2 linked regions of the Homo sapiens genome follow. The protein of the gene in region 1 interacts with the protein of each later gene in a pairwise test. Each region holds a gene or a part of one and is shown in the gene's direction. Other genes may lie near its edges.

Region 1 (3,659 bases):
AACAACATCGGCTCTGAAAGCAGACAGAACTGAGATTGAAGACCAGCTCTGCCACTTACCAAGGCCAAACAGCAGTTCAGCTTTTCTGGACCTTAGTTTCATTATCTGTAATGTAGGAATAATCATACTTTGCCAGGTTATTGTACAAGTTGAAGAAAATCTTTTTTCTTCACAGGACTAGCCCCCCATAATGGTGGGTGTTGAATAAAAGGTGGTTACCAACACCCCTGGGGAAGTTACTTAACCTCTTTGTGCCTCATTTGTGGAATGGGATGCTAGAAGTCCACCTGGCGTAAAGGATTGTTGTGTAAGGATGAGATTATATGCATACAGGGTGCTTCACATATACTAAGTCCTCCTTGAGGATTAGCTGCTATTGATTATTTTATCATTATTGTAAAGATTTCAGCTACCATTGAGAATTTACAGGTCATCCTTTCTTTGTGGAGTTTTTAATCATGCATGATGGTTATGTCAAAACTCACAAACAATGATGGTATTAAAATAGTACTTGCAAAATGTGATCAGTGCTTTGAGGAAGGTAAGGACTTGGCCTGGTACATCATAAATATTTATTAGAGTTTGTTGACTTAAAAAAAGAAAGCCAGAAAAGTCTTTTGACCTCTAGAACCTTAAACTGTTCCCTTGCAGTTCTTCTTTTTTGGCATGGAGAATTAATTATCTGCAAACTTCTTCCTTCGCCAGAGCAGCTCTTTCACAAAATAAGGCTTACCTAAATTCTATTTTTTTTTGAGACGGAGTTTCACTCTTGTTGCCCAGTCTGGAGCACAATGGTGCGATCTCAGCTCACTGCAACCACCGCCTCACAGGTTCAAGCGATTCTCCTACCCCAGCCTCCCAAGTACCTGGGATTACAGGTGTGCACCACTACACCTGGCTAATTTTTGTGTTTTTGGTAGAGATGGGGTTTTGCCATGTTGGCCAGGCTGGTCTCAAACTCCTGACCTCAGGTGATTCACCCACCTCAACATCCCAAAGTGCTGGGATTACAGGTGTGAGCGACTGTGCCCAGCCTAAATTCTTAAGCCTTCTACCAAATATAAGAGAAAATCCAGGAGCTGGAGTGGGATTGGGTGACCTGTGGATCCAGTTGCATATTTACCCCGCTCCATCTGTGGTTCAAATGCTCACCAGGCTACAGCAGAGAAGCTGGACTTATGCATGCTGGTAGTAGGTATCAGTAATATGAAATCAGGATCCAGTTTTATTTTTATTTTTATTTATTTATTTTTTGAGATGGAGTCTCGCTGTGTCACCCAGGCTCGAGTGCAGTGGCACGATCTTGGCTCACTGCAAGCTCCACCTCCCGGGTTCACGCCATTCTCCTGCCTTAGCCTCCCGAGTAGCTGGGACTACAGGGGATCCAGTTTTATTTACAACCTTACATATCCATGAATTGGCTATAATTACATGTACAATCAGCATAGCCAAGGACAAAGTACTATGATAGTTAGCTCTTCTCTTCCTTTTCTTTATCTGTCTGTTCTCTTATCTTCTTCCTTGGCTATTCACCAGGTTGGTGGAAGAGGAGGTTCCCCAGCACTGGCCACTGACTGTGTGCTGTACTACTTTTTTTTTTTTTTGAGATGGAGTCTCACTTTGTTGCCCAGGCTGGAGTGCAGTGGCACGATCTTGGCTCACTGCAACCTCTGCCTCCCGGGTTCCAGCGATTCTCCTGCCTCAGCCTCCTGAGTAGCTGGGACTACAGGCGTGTGCCACCACACCCAGCTAATTTTTGTATTTTTTTAGTACAGATGGGGTTTCACCGTGTTGTCCAGGCTGGTCTCGAACTCCTGACCTCATGATCCGCCTGCCTCAGCCTTCCAAAGTGCTGGGATTACAGGCTTGAGCCACCGCGCTTGGCCTGTGTGTCCTACTTTCTACTTGTCCTTAGCATCACTCAGGCACACTGTTTCCCCACTACCCTACTTTACCCAACTGCTACGCACCTGTCCACATACATGCTGTATAGATTGTTTCCTGGATGATCCTTTGACCTCTTACTAATAACAACCCTTACATAGCAAGGGTGCTATGCAGATGGTTCATTAATCAATTTATTCTCATTCCATCTCCCTCCTCCCCATCTCCTTATGCTCTGTTCTCTCCGTAGATTAAAATATAAAACAAAGAGGCAGCATGTTCCTAATTGGATTGTTTTCCAGATTTACAGAGTCTCTGGGAATATTCTGAATTCGTACTCCCAGTATTGTTTTTATCAGGATTCTAAGAAGTGGCAAAGTTAAGTCAGCATCTCAAGGTGGAGAAGTCTGCAGAATGTTTGGTGGAAAAGCCATGAGCTAGGGTTGAAAGAGCTGTCACCTAGCATGGCTGTTAACCCAGGCAAGTGACTTAGCCATGCTCACCCTTAATTTCTGGTCAGCAAAACAAGAGAACTGGGATCTTTAAGGCCTCTTCTAGCATCAACTGTGTGGGTTTCTGTTCTTTGGTTACTCATCTACAAAACATAGTCATCAAGTTTTACTGTTTCTGAAACTGATGTTCTTTGTTAGCTCCTTCTTGACGTAAGTTTAAATCTGTAACTAGTATCTGCTGATTTTAAAATGTACCTTTATTGTTTTTATTACAAAAAATATTATACTTTCTACTGATACATTTCTCATTAGTTATTACCAATGACTCCTCTTTCTCTTCCTTATTCTATCCTGTCTCATCTCATTCTTTATAGTTAAGTGTTAATGGTTGGTAGCTAGTATCTCAGACTTTTCTAGGCTTGAAATATATGCATATGTAAACATAAAATTCCTTTGACTATAAAGGGATTATATTATACATATGGTTCTGAAGCTTGTGTTTTTATTAATTAGCAGATGATAGAGACAAACATTAGGAAACAATATTCAGTGAAACATCAGTCTCTCTTATACCCTTAATCCTCAGTTGTCCTTCCTTAGAGGCAATGTTTATATATCAGAAATTTTCTGTGTGTATATACACACATATATAGTTAGGATTTTTTTTTAACAAAGTGGGAGCACACTACTCACTGTTTAGCTCCTTGCTGCTGCTGTTTTTTTCCCCTCCTTTGGTTTAATGTTATATTTTGTAGATTATTCCATGTCAAATAATTCATGTAAACACTTAGTAAGTGCTCAAAAATGTTAATTATCATTATCAGCCCCCTAAACAGCTTTCCTATTCTTTTTTTAAGGCTGCAAAACATTCCATTGTTTACATACACTAGTTACTTATTGATATTTCCAATGTGGCTATTATAAATAATGGTTCAGTGGACATCCTTGCTTCTAAGTCCTTGTAGGACTGTATCTGAGGAAGAAATGTCTGTTGAAAGACTGTACCTTTTATATTTTGTTAGGTATTTAGAAGGCAGTCTAGCAGTTGGTTGAACCTGTTTGCATTCCTATCAAGAATGTATGAGGTGGCCGGGTATGGTGGCTCATGCCTGTAATCCCAGCACTTTGGGAGGCCGAGGTGGGTGGATCACTTGAGGTCAGGAGTTCGAGACCAGCCTGGACAACATGGTGAAACCCCATCTCTACTGAAAACACAAAAATTAGCTGGGCATGGTGGCATGTGCATGTAATCCCAGCTACTTGGGAGGCTGAGGCAGGAGAATTGCTTAAACTCTGGAGCTGGAGGTTGCAGTGAGCCAAGAT
Region 2 (3,659 bases), on another chromosome or scaffold:
CCTGAAACCATTGTTGCTATGTCAGTTGCCAAATGGTGATATTCTAATTCCATCATTCGTCTGACACTTATTAGATGGCATATTAATTCTAAGGAAAAATTTCCATTTATCCTTATTTATTGATTGATTTACTTCAGAATGGATTCATGAATTCATATCTGATTTAATGAGTTATTACCCATTATCACTATTGGCTTTGATGCTCAAATTGTCTCTTACTTCGCCAGTGGGAGCCCCTTCCAGCTGACATCTATGTACTAGTGATGTATCTCCAGCATTCGTTGAGCACTTACTTACTTGTAGCATAAGATGCTCCAGGCTTATTTTGTACATTCGCCTCCAAGCTCAGCCCTGATGTTAGCTTTTCCAAAGAACATGAACACAATGTTTAGAAATTGGTTTCTGAGCCCTTGGTATGTTCATTGTTGTTGGAGTGTCATTGTTTCTAGCTCATCGGGTAGATCTAGAAAGTTACCTATCCATTTTTGTATTTACTGACTCATATTAAAAACCAGGAGTTCATACTGATTCTTCCAACTATAATCCCACTCCACAGAGTTCATTCCAGCCTCTCCTTTTTCATATTTGCTACTCCTCCTTCTGACAGTGTGAAGCCTGGCTTCCATCATCCACAGCTTAGTTACAGTTGACCCTTAAACAACACAGGGATTGGGGCGCCAGTGCCCCATTCAGTCGAAAATTCATGTATAACTTTTGACTCCCTCAAAACTTAACTCACAGCCTACTGTTGACCAGAAGCCTTACCAAAAACATAGTCAATTAACACATATTTTGTATATGTATTATATACTGTACTCTTATAAACTAGAGAAAAGAAAATATTATTAAGAAAAGCATAAGGAAGATAAAATATACTTACTGTTTTTTAAGTGGAAGTGGATCATCATAATGGTCTTCACCCTTACCATCTTCATGTTGAGTAGGCTGAGGAGGAAAAAAGAAGAGAGGTTGGTCTTATTGTTTCAGGGGTGGCAGAGGCTGAAGAAAATAAGACATAAGTGGATCCAGGCAGTTTGGATCCAATATGGGATCCAACAGCCCACGTTGTTCAGATGTCAGCTGTGCTTATTTTCTCAATCAAATAATTTGAAATAATAGGGTTGTCTGTTTTCTAGCTCTGGTGGAGGCTTGGATTTTATGTGATTCTATTTGTTCTTCTCTTTGAATTGTGCATAGTTTTTGGAGTACGTCCTAGGAAATTTGGATTGACATGACTGTCACTACTACAGCTACCTCAGAAGTGAGAATAACTTTTTTAACACTTGAAGTGAAATACATAGTATTACAAAAGAAAACTACTGTATTGAAATACATCCAAATATTTATAAGTTTATTTTATTAACATGGTGGCAGGAACAATAACCACCATAATTTTGAAGTAGTAATCAGCATTAATCATATTTTGAGATAATTCCAACAAATGCAATGTAACATGAAAATATTTATTATTTCTATTGGTAACAAAATCACAGGCAATACAAATACTACTGCGGTTTGTTGTTTCTTCCGTAATTGAAGATTGTGCTAAACTTCAATTACAGTTCAGGAAAAAAAAAAAGATGGGATCTTTTTCCCATCCAAATGTAGAAACCCCTGAATTCTATCCACAGACTCTCTCAAAGTTCTAATGGCACCCTTTTGTCTGAGAAGCTTTCATAGATGCCCAAATCATCCATCCAACTGAATTCAATCCCTTAGGGGCTGGTAACCCAGTTTCATGCACAGGAACATGCATGAAACATACCCTCCTTGTGGCTTCCCTTCCCCCATTCCCTCATCTACTTTCCCCTCTGGGACCTTGTGTCAGTTATTATACTATAACAGAGGAGGTTATGAGGGGAGATGACTCTGTAGCCACAACTATTTCAGATGTCAGATGTTGCTTTTGGCCAGTGGACTTTTATCCCTGCCTCTCAGCAATCATGGACAAGATGTGAAGTGTCGACCTTATCAACTCAGCTTGTCAGCTTGGACACTTCTCAGCCCAGCCCAGAGTGGAGTGCTCCAGTCCCCAGAGCCCCTCATCTGTCTCCTATAGTGGAAGGACACAGCACTCTAGTCCCAGTGACCTTGGCAAATCACTTTGTTGCTTTGAGCCAGTTTCTAAGGCAAATAATATGCCCTCTCTAACTCAAAACGCTATTGAGAGGACAAAATGAGACCTGTGTGTGAAAGCACAGCATAGAGTGCCTTACTAATGTATGACATTATTTTACTGTGACTCCCTCGTGCATGCCCCTGGTAAAAATGACAACACAAAAACTTCCAACTCTCTGCTCTAGAGAACATAAAACCCCACAAATATTTGTCTTCTTCAAATAATTCCCCTGGGAGTTTAGACTGCAATGAAAGCTGCAGAATCCATTCAGAAAATATATTAAACATTTCGCCTTTCGGTGATTATTTACTGAAGCCAGATTTGAGCAAAACGCTATATTAGTTGAATTTGTAGATACAAAATTTCCTTAAAAGGTTTAAACATGTAATTTTGCAAGAGTTAGTTATACCACTTCCCCTCCCATAATTATACATTTATAATGTATTTGAGAACGGGAAATCTTGCTACATGGACATTGATTTGCAACAAATTATAACTCTTACACAGAAAAGAGTTGGAAAAACTATACCAAATTATTAAGCCATGGTAATCTAAAAAGTTGACTACTTCAGAAATAGCTGTAGCTATACCACAAGAATCAAGTAGGTTCTCCAAACATATTTTTATATTCCTCTGACTTAATTTTTATCAACTGACTTTTTTTTTTTTTTTTTTTTTTTTTTGTGACAGAGTCTTGCACTGTCGCCAGGGCTGGAGTGCAATGGCATGATCTCGGCTCACTACAACCTCCACCTTCTGGGTTCACGATTCTCCTGCCTGATTCTCCTGCCTGATTCTCCAGCCCTAGCCTCCTGAGTAGCTGGGATTACAGGCACCCTCCACCACACCCAGCTAATTTTTTGTATTTTTAGTAGAGATGGGGTTTCACTATGTTGGCCAGACTGGTCTCAAACTCCAGACCTTGTGATCTGCCCCCCTCTGCCTCCCAAAGTGCTGGGATTACAGGAGTGAGCCACCAGGCCCGGCTGAACTGACAATTCTTTTATCATTTTTTTTTTCTTTAGCTATAGATCTTCTGGGGGAAGAAAGATAAAAGCAGAGCCCGAAATTTTCTTGAGAAGTGAAGAAGACATTACATTGATTTTTTTTAATCTGAAATAGTCTGTTTCTCAAACAGCAGTAAAAATAGTGTGTGTGTGTCTGTGTGTGTGGTGTTTAAAATTCTGTGTGTATGTTTATATTTCTTGATCTAGAAAGAAAACTTTACAAATACAGAAGAAAATGGGGAAAATGCACTAAAATATTGAATCAAGTGTTATAATCATTACTATCTTCTTTTTTTCTATGTTTTTTCTTGAGGATAAATTACTTTTACAAGCAGAAAAAAATAAATGATTTTTGAAAAGGATTCGAAGGAAAAATTAGGAAATAATTGTAAGAAAATAAAGTCCAGGCTGGGCGTGGTGGCTCACGCCTGTAATCCCCGCACTTTGGGAGGCCGAGGCAGGTGGATCACCTGAGGCCAGGAGTTCAAGACAAGCCTGGCCAACATGGAGAAACCCCACCTCTACTAAAAATA

Evidence for each region.
Region 2: the proteins of STX8 (region 1) and DHRS9 interact in binary tests that used the Homo sapiens proteins (3 or more experiments, as listed by UniProt).

The regions. Positions count from the first base shown.
Region 1 is NC_000017.11:9,548,169-9,551,827, reverse strand, and holds part of STX8 (syntaxin-8), read left to right. Parts: intron 1-3,659. UniProt on the Homo sapiens protein: Vesicle trafficking protein that functions in the early secretory pathway, possibly by mediating retrograde transport from cis-Golgi membranes to the ER.
Region 2 is NC_000002.12:169,076,040-169,079,698, forward strand, and holds part of DHRS9 (dehydrogenase/reductase SDR family member 9), read left to right. Parts: intron 1-3,659. UniProt on the Homo sapiens protein: 3-alpha-hydroxysteroid dehydrogenase that converts 3-alpha-tetrahydroprogesterone (allopregnanolone) to dihydroxyprogesterone and 3-alpha-androstanediol to dihydroxyprogesterone. Also plays a role in the biosynthesis of retinoic acid from retinaldehyde.